Regions from separate parts of the Homo sapiens genome. Here regions 1, 3 and 4 are each reported to be linked to region 2. Evidence: microRNA targets listed by miRTarBase, many of them from high-throughput screens and not tested one by one. Region 2 holds a microRNA gene; each other region holds the end of a gene's coding sequence.

Region 1 (3,080 bases), not on the chromosome of region 2:
AATTTTCTTCATTTAAAATTCTCTTATGTGAATATGAACACTTGTAAAATAAAGATCTGCTCCAACAGTACAGTAAAGGTGGTATTAACACCCTATTTTTTATGTGAAGTAGTAGCCTCATTTTTCCTTGCATCAGGGCTACCTTGTCTCAAAAGCGACCTAAACACTGGTGTATAAGGTTTAAATTAAAAGATGTAAAACCATGGCATCAAGAACAACATAGATTGCACCAATAATTATACCCTAGTGTGTGGAAAGCAGTTTATAATATTCATTATTAATCCTGCTAGTAAATTCTTCTAGAAATTTACGTAGGTGATAAGGAAAATTTAGCCAATGACTTCTGCAGTTGAACCAAACCAGTGACGAGCCATGGAGAAGTTCGTCAGGTGAATGGTAGCAAATCTGAATTTTGTTTTGAAATTCTAGCTAGTTATGTGGCCAAAAACATTTAAGCACTTTTGGCATATTCATGTCCAAAACTTAATCACATGCCACACTGGAATCAGTATACATGATAATTCTATTGTGAAACACTAAAATAAACATCAACTCACACTTTAAAAAATGAAAATAACAACGAAAAACATGGATATAATTAGAATCTGTTTTCTGAAGTCCTAGAAGTTTCATCAGTTATACCTGCTTCCCTGAGAGCTGAATGTTCTGACTAAAGGCAAGTTTTGGTAAGTAGTTTATTTTTACACTGTTCCTTTCCGTTCAGAATAAACAATAATGTGTGAGGCAGTGTGTTTGGTGTCCTATATTCCTGATAGCTAATATTATTCAAATTTCATTTGATTTGAATAATTCTTTTCTTTGAACTTTAGTGCAGGAGTGTGTGGCAGGTGAGGGGAAGCTCTATTTGCTATGCTTTAAAGACTCACTTTCATCTTTCTGGAACAAAGCAAGAGAAAACACATACCACGCACCACAATTCCATATACACAGTACTGTTTACCTATAGTGTTTTCCAGTTTTGTGTAGGTGCAGTTAATAGATTTCTTCATAGTTATATCCAAAATGAAGAGGTGGCATCATAATGCCTAGACCCTTAGGGAAAAACATATTAAAGATGTACATTTCCCAAAAATGAGTCAGTTGATTTTATTCATTAAAAATATGCATAATAAAAGGCCAAGCACAAAGCTCTTTATAAAAAGGAGCAAAATGTATTTTCCAGAAGAGTTAGATAAAGGCATGAGATGAATTTCAGTTAAATGGATCTATTTCTTTGTGGGTTTTGAGAACTCATTTTAGACACTGAATAGAGGCTGTTTTACATTATAATCATAGCTAGAGATTACATAGATGGAGGGAAAAAAAGTCTTTTGCTTTAACTCTTACTAAATTTCTATAAAGTATTTTAAAATCAATTTAAAAACCAAATCTGTACCTCTCCCCTCTATCACAGTTTTTGTAAGTAATTAAGAATTTTACCCGTACGATTGCACAGCAACTATGGAAGAGAGAGGTAGATGATTCGGCCACCCTCTCACAAGGAAACCCCCAAATACTTTAGGGCATTAAACACAAGGCTTTTGTTATCCAAAAGTAATTAGTTGCAGAGTACAAAAACATTTTGGAGCAGAATGTACATAAACATGAGTCATAAACAGCCGAAACCAAGAACACTAACAGTAAGTTCATAAAGAAATGCACAAATTCTATGTATCTTACAAAAATGATCCTCACAGATGTTGAATCCAAGATTATACAATAGAAAATATTTATATGTTTTACATTTAATATAAAAATTCTTAACAAATAAAAAAAGGCCTTGATGATAGACAAGAAGAAATTTTAGGGAATACATTAATTTTCAGGATGCCCCGAGGATAATACATCTTAAATACTCAGCTCCTGTTCTAGGCAAAGGCCAAATGCAGGCATTTTCTCAGGGTTCATCATTGGTGTTAAGAGAAAACCAGGTTAAGGAAGACTCAAGCAAGCTGGGAAAGGAAGTAAAAATTAAGCCAAAAAAGAATTCTGCCAAGCACAACATACCCTATCTAAAAAAATTTAGGAACATAAATCAAAGACAGTCGTGAGTATACATCAAGAAAATTCATATTGATGAGTTTATGGTCTTGGTGATAAATATCAAAACAGGAAGTCAGTTAAAACAAGTGTGCAAATAAGTAATGGGGACTGGGGGAAGAAGAGGAGAGAATACCTATACAATCTTGAAGGTAAACACTGCAAGGAGGAATTTAGTCATTTCATAGCTCCCAGTCCACCCTGGATGTGCATTTCTTGCAACATCTCAATAAGTTAAAGAACAGTTATTCACAAAACTTCAGGTTAGTGTTAACAGTTTTTACCTGGTTAATTTAGGGCTAGACACTCAGTTGCTTTAATAAGACATTTAGTTATGGTTCATCATAATAGTCACCCATTCTTCATCTTTATTAACTTAGAAAATTTTACTTCTCATTTAAAGCCCTGGAGCATTTTTTTTTTTTTTTTGAGATAAGAGTCTTGCTCTGTCACCCAGGCTGGTGTACAGTGGCACAATCTCGGCTCACTGCAACCTCCACCTCCCTGGTTCAAGCAATTCCCCTGCGTCAGCCTCCCAAGTAGCTGGGATTACAGGCGCACGCCACCACGCCTGGCTAATTTTTTTGTAGTTTTAGCAGAGATGGGGTTTCACCAGGTTGGCCAGACTGGTCTCGAACTCCTGACCTCAAGCAATCCGCCCATCTTGGCCTCCCAAAGTGCTGGGATTATAGGCATGAGCCACCACGCCCGGCCGAGCATACTTTTAAAAATGATTTTGAAACACGGGTCTCTTTTCTTTAAGTCAACATTTGTCTAAGCACGTCTGTAAACGTTCTGTTACAGGGAGAGGAAGAGTATTGAGCAAGTTCTCCTCAACAATCAGACAGTTCCGTTTTAGGGACTGACATCCTTCTAGTTCAGGAGGAAGTGTTTCCAGGTAATTACCAATGAGCTCCAGATGAGTAAGGTTTGACAGCTCACCCACATGAGGGGACAAATTCATCAAGCTATTTTTCCCCAAAAGTAAACACTGCAGCTTTTTGCACTGAAACAGCCCATCTGGTAGCATCTCAATCTGG
Region 2 (3,080 bases):
CAGGTGTAAACTGCTGAGTGCAGATACCATGCAGTGCAATTATGACTGAACTGTACAACTCGTATTCCCAAATTTGCAATATTGCTGAGAAATGCTTTCACAAACCTCTCAAATTCCTTTAACAAGTACAATAATTTGAGCTTTTTTCCTAATTGTCACTGTAATAAGGAAGCTACATTAACTACATTTTAAGCTACAACTCTAGTCTTTGCCTAATCTTTGCCCAGTCTCTCTATAAAACTTAAAGATGGAATATATACATGTAACTTAACAGATCAGACAACAAACGTCAAGCTCATTGTTGCTCAAACTGCCAGTTACACAAAATTCTTTTTATGTAATTCATATCCCTATTGATTCAACATATCCACACAGGTTTACGTGACTTTAGGATGAAATATGTGTAACTGCCAGTTGAATAATGATGCAAAGAACACAGGTAGTTTCGTTTGGTAGGTATAGACATGCAGTCTCTTCATTTTCCTTCTCTATACAAATATATACATTGTAATATTTTTGCCAGTATCTTACTAATTCTGTGTTATACCTGAAATACTGGGATGGTGTAATTTCTATTTTTCATCTTTTGAGTCCTTGATTATTATAAGTTAAATATTTTACTTACCTCTCAACATGAATGAGTTCAAATCACATTCATTCCTATAGAAAGTACCAATTAAAGATTTAGAAAGGATACATTTCCAGTTATTAAAACTAAAACCCAAGTATAAATTTAAGATCCAGTTTATTATACAGCCATATCCAGCTCTGTCAGAATTAAGTTTTAGTTCATGCCCGTTATCATTCAGCAGTTGAACAGTTAAATTCATCATCTGAACTGTAATCATTATTTCCCAAAAGATTATACTGTCACCAATTAAAACTTACCTAAGCGATCACTCAAGAATGGTACAGATGTGTGGAGTATGCCAATACCTAAGGTAAAAAAGTAGATTATCTGGTTTTTCATAACGTTTAGCAACCGTCTTTTTCAAACTTTTAGCAACTGTCTTGTAATTCCTTCCCACAGATCTAACAATAGTCCTGTGAGTAAAGTAAAACCACAGAGTTACTCTATGAGGCGTTTCCAACGATGTGCAGGCTACAGGAAAAGCCCCATCGGGATAGACCTCAACCACTATTTACAAGGTTTTGATTTTTTTTTAAAGACACAGGATCTGCCATGTCTTTTAAAAATCGTGTGATTCTTGCTGAATCACTTGAGCCCAGGGGTTCGAGGCTACAGTGAGATGTGGCAGGATCACATCTCACTGTAGCCTCAAACCGCTGGGCTCAAGTGTTTCTCCTGCCTTAGCCTCCAGAGTAGCTGGGGACCACAGGCACCACTGTGTCCAGCTAGTATTTATACACATAAATAACAAAGTCTAACACTCCATAGGAAAGAAATTATGAGCAGAAACTGCAATATGCTCTTACAATATTGCCAACTGCAGAAACTTCCTACTACGTTAATCACAAAAACAATAATTTCACAATCACGTTGTGCTTAGGAGCCAGAGGAATGATAAATAAAAAGTAACATCAAGTAGCTCCTTTACATGAACCAAAGGAAAAAGATTTAAACTTAAGATTTAAGTTTAAAGTCTAACTGTTGTTATGAACTTCAGTATTGCAACAGAGGATGTTGTTTTCCCAATTCGAAGATTTCAGCAAATTTTAATTCTTGGCTCAAAATTAATTGTCATCCATTATAAAATACAGGAATATAATGTGCCTGTAAGTTACGACTTTGGCATTATATAACTTTTAATCAAACTCTACATCATTCAAATTTATGAATTCTTATGACCTGTGTAATCATCTTTTATTATACTATATTTTGCATTAAACCATAAAATCCTCTGCCTCATTTTAGATTGTGCATTAATTCAAAATAATGCTGTAGGCTTCAAGTAGGAAATCCAAAGTTCTGATTATTGCTACAAACTAACAAATTCAGGACCCTCTAATGCTTGCAACTAAAATGAATCTGACACATCACTATAAAATGTGTGAATCTAGGATTCTTCTTTTCAGAAATCAGTATAAATGGGAATTAAAAGCATGGTAGAAATGTCCCTGAATAAAATGAAACTTGCTCTGACAACATACTGTTTCCTACACATAAACAAATATGATGTGAAAACTCAAATTGAGACATACCTTTAACTCCAGACACCATGTTCTCAAGATAAAAGCCTTTAAAACAAAAAGCCATTGTGTATATCATCAACATGAAATTGGAATGCAAAATTAATACTGCTGAGGATTTCCCTCATATCCCATGCTGTTTATCTATTCTACAGGCCTGGAATCAACCTTTTTTTCTTAAGAGACAGGGTCTGTCTTTGTTACTCAGGCTGGAGTACAGTGGTGCCATCAAAGCTCAGTGCAGCCTCCAACTCTGCCTCAGCCTCCCCCCTTTCTGAGTAACTCCAACTACAGGCACATGCCCCAGTACCCAGCTAATTTTTAAATTTTTGTGGAGATGTGTTTCTTACTTTCTTGCCTAGGCTGGTCTTGAACTCCTGGTTTCAAGCAATACTCCCACCTTGGTGTGGGGATTGCAGGCTTGACCCATTGCACCTGGCCTGGAACCAACCTTTATGGCTATCAATACTCCCATCAATCAACTGTCTCAGGTATCATAATATCCCTTCTTATATGTATCAAAACTCATACTGAACAATGAGTTCTGGGTTGCAAAAGAGGATTTATTTTTTGCACCTATCTGTAAGTCTTTGTCCACGTTAAACAAAAACATACATAAGTGCAGTCCCAAAATGCACTACATAGCAGAGTAGTCAGCTCTATCGTGGTGATCAAAATAATGAACATCGGGGTAATGACTGGTTCTCCCCAGGTATACATGTTGAATAAATGTGTATGCCTTTTCTTGAACTAATAAAAAGTGAAAATGGTAGTTAAAAGTAGTATTAGGCCAGGTGCCATGGCTCACACCTATAATCCCAGCATTTTGGGAGGCCAAGGCAGGCGGATCGCCTGAGGTCAGGAGTTCGAGACCATGGTGAAAGCCTGTCTCTACTAAAAAAACAAAAACTAGCTGGGTGTGCTGGCTA
Region 3 (3,080 bases), not on the chromosome of region 2:
TAGATAATACATTTCTTTCACTTTTTAAAGCTGTTATCTATGTATTATTTTTTATATTAAAATACCTTTTATGAATTGGAGAAACTCTGTGTTGTCTCTGAGATGAGAGTAGCCTGTAAGAAATTATTTTAGCCTTCTGACCCTCTGCTATTTGTTTTTCACCCATCTTCTTGTTTTAATGCCCTTATCAACTATGGTAGTGCTCTGTAATTTGTCAGAAAACTGACTCCTCTGTCATGGGTATATTCGTCTATATATCTTCAGCTATCAAGAGCTTAATATTTATCCTATTCTTTAATTTGGGTTTTTGGGTTTCCCAACATATTTTGCTCCTCAAATTAATATTTTTCAGATCCTCAAAAGAAAGATTCAGAGACCAAGACTTAGCATCATGTGACAGAGACAGGAGTTCAAGAGACAGATCACCTCGTGACAGAGATCGGAAAGATAAGAAGCGGTCCTATGAGAGTGCTAATGGCAGATCAGAAGACAGGAGGAGCTCTGAAGAGCGCGAAGCAGGGGAGATCTAACTAGCTGTGTACATTTCTTCAGTCCTTAAGCTTCCTACGGAGTTACGTACTATTGTTTAGTTCACAGCTGTTCAGGGTGACAGTGAGCAGATCCAGACACCAGATCCAGCTAGGCTAGATGTACAGTATCTAACTTGATCTGAACTGAACCTGTTTTCCTTGATGATGCCTAAAACTACATCCATAGTTTCTGGTGAACCTGTAATACAGTTCTGAAAGTACAGTTTTATATAATAAGATGCTGATCTCTTTATTCTTTCAAGTAAGAGTGCTAGTGAACAAATTGTGTTACTTGCCTTGGGATTTTTTGAACGTTTGTAAAATGCTGTCTTCCTAGTCCAAACAGCTGCAGCTTTGGGCATTTTTCTTTTTAATTATTCTTCCTCTGACTTTGTATCCCTTAATACCTACACTCTCCAATTGTAAGAGAAAGGGGGCAGGGAAGCAATATAGCTTCCATTCTAAGGCTGTATTCCCGTTATGAATTACTAGCTGATTACAGTTCAGAGCATTGATCCTGGAATGTGTGCTGGAGAAATTTAAAATACTGGGGTTTTTTGTTTAATGGTGCCTATTTAGAGTTGGAAGTTGAACAGCTGTTGCATTACATACTTTTGCTTTTTTATTGAAATTTTGAAATCAAACGTCTTGATTTTTCTGTTCTGTTGAATTGCTATGTTCAGGATGTTCTAGGGGGTGGGGGCAGGGACTCTTTTCGTAATAAGCACTTGTTTTATTTTGTGTGTGTGGAGTATAAAGGCTACACCCTTATTGTAAAAAAATAATAATAATAAAATGAAAGAAACAATCACCACCACCATTATTAAACTGTAACTTGTCTAGTAAATTGTCACTAGAACTATTTGCTGTGGGCATTTCCTCTATTCTGTTACGTCATTAACAGTGCCTTACTGTGCAAGGCACCAAAGGACATAAATACGTACTTGCAAAGATTCCAGATGAGCTGTTCATGTGGGCCCCTTGCTGACTATATTCCAGCCACTTCAGGGTTGTTTGTAATGACCGTTATAGAGAAGGGCTCGACCTGCAGAAGAAACTGGGGTGTTTTTATTCTCATTCAACAAACCCAAATAAAAACAGTATATGTAACCAACATAATGAGACTTAAGTTTCTGCCTTGAAGAGTTGTATATCCGTTAGTAACTTAAACTGTAATTGGCAGGTATCACTTGTGATTCTGGAAATTCTGAGGAACACAGATTCCTTAAGTAATGAAATTAGTATCTGTGGGTATCATTAACTAAGGTCACCTTTCAAGAACTGTTAATGTCCTTTGTCCCCAAGTTTGACAGATTTGATGTCAGAGGCATGTGGGCCTCTGTGAAGGTGCTGAGAGAATGGGAAACTAAGGCCATTCTAAGTGATACCAGATTACGTTAAAAACCCTCATCAAGTTCCCAATTTACCAAGCTATGCCTCATTAACTGAGGGTTTTCTGCTGTATTTGGTTCCACACATGCAATTTATATGGCATTTAATCTGAGAGACCCATCTGCCTCAGTGGCCCATTTCCCTTTTATTTTTGGTTGCTAAGAAATGTTTTGTATCTCCTTTGTTCCGGGTAGTCTGTGCTGTTCTAAATCCTTACAAGCACTTCAGATTTCGTACATTGGGGTTCGGAGTAAGATCAAAAGGACTAGCTGGTTGGTGTGAGGAAGAATGTCTGGGACCTGGCCCATTATAATAGTATATCTGGACTTAGATTTTGAACTCTAAAGCATATGTACAGTTGGAATGGAACACTTGTAGAAGTAACACAGGTCTATATATCAATGGTTACTGCAGCTGTGGTTTCTAGATGGTATAGGCTGCCCCAACATGAACAGGGCATAAAGCGCACCATCACTGTGGGGCTGCGTGCCACAGCGGACCACTTCAACCGCATGGCTCTTTACATGATTGATGCCACTGAATTAGAATAAAATCTCAAATCTTAATATCACTTTCTCATACACAATTTTTGGTCTTTCTGTGTTGGTGACTGGTAGAAAGCATAAGTAAGTATATTGTATTTGCAAAAAACTTTTGTCCCTCTGGGGAGTGTTTTGCTAAGTTTTTACCTTCAGTAAGGTTTCCTTCATTTTGCTGTCATCAAGTATTACCCTAAAGCTCCTTTGCTGAGCTTATCAACACCAACTAAAACTAAGGAAAAAAGCCTCCTTAAATAGGTATGTTTTTTATTTTTTTGAGACGGAGTTTCACTCTTGTTGCCCAGGCTGGAGTGCAATGGTGCAATCTCAGCTCACTGCAACTTCCGCCTCCTGGGTTCAAGCAATTCTTCTGCCTCAGCCTCCCGAGTAGCTGGGATTATAGACGTGCACCACCACGTCCGGCTAATTTTTGTATTTTTAGTAGAGACGGGGTTTCGCCGTGTTGCCCAGGCTGGTCTTGAACTGCTGGCCTCAGGTGATAGGCCCGCCTCGGCCTCCCAAAGTGCTGGGAGTATAAGGCATGAGCAACCCCTCCCTGCCCTACCCCTGCCAGGCTTGTTTTTTTTTTTTTTTTTTTTGTTTTTTGTTTTTTTTTTGT
Region 4 (3,080 bases), not on the chromosome of region 2:
TGGGGGAGCGCAAGGGCACGGAAGGAGGTGCTGGCCACGAGACTGGTGAGCGGGCGGCAGGACAGGTGCCCGACTCAGGGCTGGCGTTTGCAGGCGGTGCTGGAGCGGCCGGTGGCTGAGGTGGCGGCCCCGGTGGTGAAAGAGCTGAGACTAGCCTTGCTGGCCCCGGCGGAGCTGAGCGCCCTGGAAGAGCAGAACCGGCAGGAACCACTCATCCCGGTGGGGACGCGGGGAACCGGCCCAGCTCCACTCAGCAGGGGGTACAGGGCGCTGGGAGGGGGCAGGAGCAGCCCGGCCCACGGTCCTCGGGGCGAGGGGCCACCGCGGGACTGCGCACTAACTGGCCTTGCTCTGCAGGTGGAGCAGATTGTGGAGGCGTGGAAATGCCATGCCCTGCGGAGAGGGGATGAGGCCCGGGGCGCCCCGTGTCGCCGCCGGAGAGGCACCCTGCCCCGGGAGCATCACCGCTTTCTGGACCTGTCCTTCAAATGATCCAACGCCGGGACTCGCAGGGAGCCCTCGACCCGCCCAGCTGAGCCTGCCCCAAACTACAGCTCCCGAAGTGCTCGGCGTTCGGAGCGGGCTTCCGTTCCCAGCGTGCCCAGTGAGCCGGGCGCCGGAAGAACCGTTGTCTGCCACGCGCAGCCCCTTGTGCGGGATCAAGCCCGTGTGGGCGAGGTGGGGTCGGGCCGGGCAGGGCTTGGGCTGGGCCTCCCTGAGGGGGTGAAACTCGAAAACGAGGATTTCCTTCGTTCCACACCCTGACTCTACGCCCTGCCCCTGGGCATTGTCGTCTACTAGTCTATTCTGATGACTCCCACATATCTATCTGTTCAGCTCAGCTCCCTCTTTCTTTTCTTTTTCTTTCTCTTTCTTTCTTTCTTTCTTTCTTTCTTTCTTTCTTTCTTTCTTTCTTTCTTTCTTTCTTTCTTTTTCTTTCTTTCTCTTTCCTTCCTTCCTTCCTTCCTTCCTTCTTTCTTTCTCTTTCTCTATCTCTTTCTTTCTTTCTTTCTTTCTCTCCTCTCTCTTTTTTTTGAGACGGAGTCTCGCACTCTCGCCCAGGCCGGAGGGCAGTGGTGCCATCTCGGCTCACTGCAAGCTCCGCCTCCCGGGTTCACGCCGTTCTCCTGCCTCAGCCTCCGGAGTAGCTGGTACTACAGGCGCCCATCACCACGCCCGGCTAATTTTTTTGAATTTTTAGTAGAGACGGAGTTTCACCGTATTAGCCAGGATGGTCTCGATCTCCTGACCTTGTGATCCGCCCGCCTCGGCCTTTTTTTTTTTTTTTTTGAGACAGAGTCTTGCTCTGTCGTCGAGGCTGGAGTGTAGTGGTGCGATTTCGGCTCACTTCAAACTCCGCCTCCCGGGTTCAAGCGATTCTCGTGCCTCAGCCTCCTGAGTAGCTGGGATTACAGACATGCACCACAACGCCCGGCTAATTGTTGTATTTTTAGTAGAGACGGGGGTTTCACCATGTTGGCCAGGTTGGTCTCGAACTCCTGACTTCATGTGATCCGCCAGCCTCGGCCTCCCAAAGTGCTGGGATTACAGGTGTGCGCCACCATGCCCGGCCTCAGCTCCTTCTTTCATTCCAGACCTGCCCCCCTGGAGATCGCTCCCTGAATGCCCCTCAGACACCACAGGCTCGGCGAGAAATTGATCTCCCCAGCTTTTCCCCAGCTCTGCCCCCATCGTGTTTCTCATTTCCGTGGACACCCACGCCAGAAACCTGGATCTCATCCTTGCCTTATCGCTCTTCACACCTGCCTTAGGTCTCTTTTTACCTTGTAAGAGACCTTAAGAGACCTTTCCAGTTGGTTCAGTTCTCTCAGCCCCAGGTTCAACCTGTCCTGTCTGACACGTCTCACAGCCTTCCTGCCTTCACTCCAGCGCCCCCTCAATCCATTTCCCACAGTGCAGCCAGACCTGTTTTTGATTGTCAGTCCTATGGGGCTTAAGTCCTGGAACATCCCATTGACCTCCAGGACAAAATTCAATCTATTTCACTTTCAGGGCACTCAAAACTACTAGTGAGTGGTTCCTCACCTCTTCTCTCAAATACAATCTTTGTATAAATTCATTTATCCTGGAGGTATTAGTCCTCTAGCTCCATACCTTACTCAGTTACTGCAGACCCCTCTGCTACCTCCTTCATTCACTATACATCTTGTTTTCCCGAGGATGTGAATCTCCCTCAAGAAAGATCCCTGGGGCCTGGAGTGGTGTCTTACTCGTTTCTGCTTCCTCAGTCTCTGTCAGATAATCAGTGCTATGTAAATGTTAAGTAAATGACTTTATTTATTTATTTATGACACAACCTTATTCTCACCCAGGCTGGAGTGCAGTGGTGCAATCTCGGCTCACTGCAGCCTCAGCCTCCCAGGCTCAAGTGATCTTCCCACTTCAGCCTGCTGAATAGCTGGGACTACAGGCATGTTCCATCACATTCGGCTAACTTTTTTTTTTCTTTTTGTAGAGATGAGGTCTCCCTACGTTGCCCGGGCTGTTCTCAAACTCCTGGGCTCAAGCAATGGTCCCACTCCGTCCTCCCAAAGTGCTGGGATTACAGGCATGAAGCACCACCACACCCAGCCTATTTCCTCATTTAAATGCCACTTTATTCCATGAAGAGTTTTAAAGGAGCTGCAAAGCAAGATACTGTCAATCTAAAATGAGAGACAGTTGACTATTTAGAAGAAAATAAAGTTAGATTTCTATCTCAGGGACTTCATACAAAAATATATTGTACAGGAGGCCAGGCACCGTGGCTCACGCCTGTAATCCTAGAACTTTGCGAGGCCGAGGTGGGTGGTTCGCCTGAGCTCAGGAGTTCGGGATCAGCCTGGGCAACATGGCAAAACCCTGTCTCTAAAATACAAAAAACTAGCCAGGTGTGGTGGCACATGCCCGTAATCCCAGCTACTTGGGAGGCTGAGGCACGAGAATTGCTTGAATCTGGGAGGCGGAGGTTGCAGTGAGCTGAGATTGTGCTACTGCACTCAGCCTAGGCAACAGAGTGAGACTCTGTCTCAAAAAAAAAAAAAAAAATATATATATATATATGTATATATATATATACA

What was found. Region 2 holds the annotated microRNA hsa-miR-1304-3p (UCUCACUGUAGCCUCGAACCCC, at 1,230-1,251, opposite strand). A microRNA usually pairs through its seed, bases 2 to 8, with sites in the 3' UTR of a target mRNA and lowers its output. Matches are read on the target gene's strand: a 7mer-m8 pairs with bases 2 to 8, a 7mer-A1 pairs with bases 2 to 7 and ends in A, and an 8mer does both.
Region 1: miRTarBase lists LRRC8B as a target of hsa-miR-1304-3p. Seed matches in the 3' UTR shown: 7mer-m8 at 2,524-2,530.
Region 3: the mRNA of LUC7L2 is a reported target of hsa-miR-1304-3p. Seed matches in the 3' UTR shown: 7mer-m8 at 611-617.
Region 4: the mRNA of BTBD19 is a reported target of hsa-miR-1304-3p. Seed matches in the 3' UTR shown: 7mer-m8 at 603-609.

What each region holds. Positions count from the first base shown.
Region 1 is chr1:89,592,767-89,595,846 of GRCh38, reverse strand. LRRC8B (leucine rich repeat containing 8 VRAC subunit B) reads right to left here. Exons shown (of 6, transcript NM_001369817.2): 6 at 1-3,076. The coding sequence ends at 2,804. Among named protein-coding and RNA genes, the nearest start is that of LRRC8C-DT, 39 kb to the left of the region's middle.
Region 2 is chr11:93,732,462-93,735,541 of GRCh38, forward strand. It overlaps MIR1304 (microRNA 1304), which reads right to left and starts at 1,303; the gene lies at 1,213-1,303. SNORA8 (small nucleolar RNA, H/ACA box 8) reads right to left here and starts at 38; the gene lies at 1-38. SNORD5 (small nucleolar RNA, C/D box 5) reads right to left here and starts at 839; the gene lies at 767-839. It overlaps SNORA18 (small nucleolar RNA, H/ACA box 18), which reads right to left and starts at 1,136; the gene lies at 1,005-1,136. It also overlaps SNORA40 and a transcript of TAF1D not described here.
Region 3 is chr7:139,421,811-139,424,890 of GRCh38, forward strand. It overlaps LUC7L2 (LUC7 like 2, pre-mRNA splicing factor), which reads left to right. Exons shown (of 10, transcript NM_016019.5): 10 at 353-1,644. The coding sequence ends at 530. It overlaps FMC1-LUC7L2 (FMC1-LUC7L2 readthrough), which reads left to right. Exons shown (of 11, transcript NM_001244584.3): 11 at 353-1,644. The coding sequence ends at 530. LOC100129148 (a long non-coding RNA gene) reads right to left here. Exons shown (of 3, transcript NR_033999.1): 2 at 1,475-1,575. Among named protein-coding and RNA genes, the nearest start is that of KLRG2, 60 kb to the right of the region's middle.
Region 4 is chr1:44,813,281-44,816,360 of GRCh38, forward strand. It overlaps BTBD19 (BTB domain containing 19), which reads left to right. Exons shown (of 8, transcript NM_001136537.3): 7 at 94-219; 8 at 358-2,305. The coding sequence ends at 492. Among named protein-coding and RNA genes, the nearest start is that of BTBD19, 6.3 kb to the left of the region's middle. RefSeq lists a silencer at 639-708.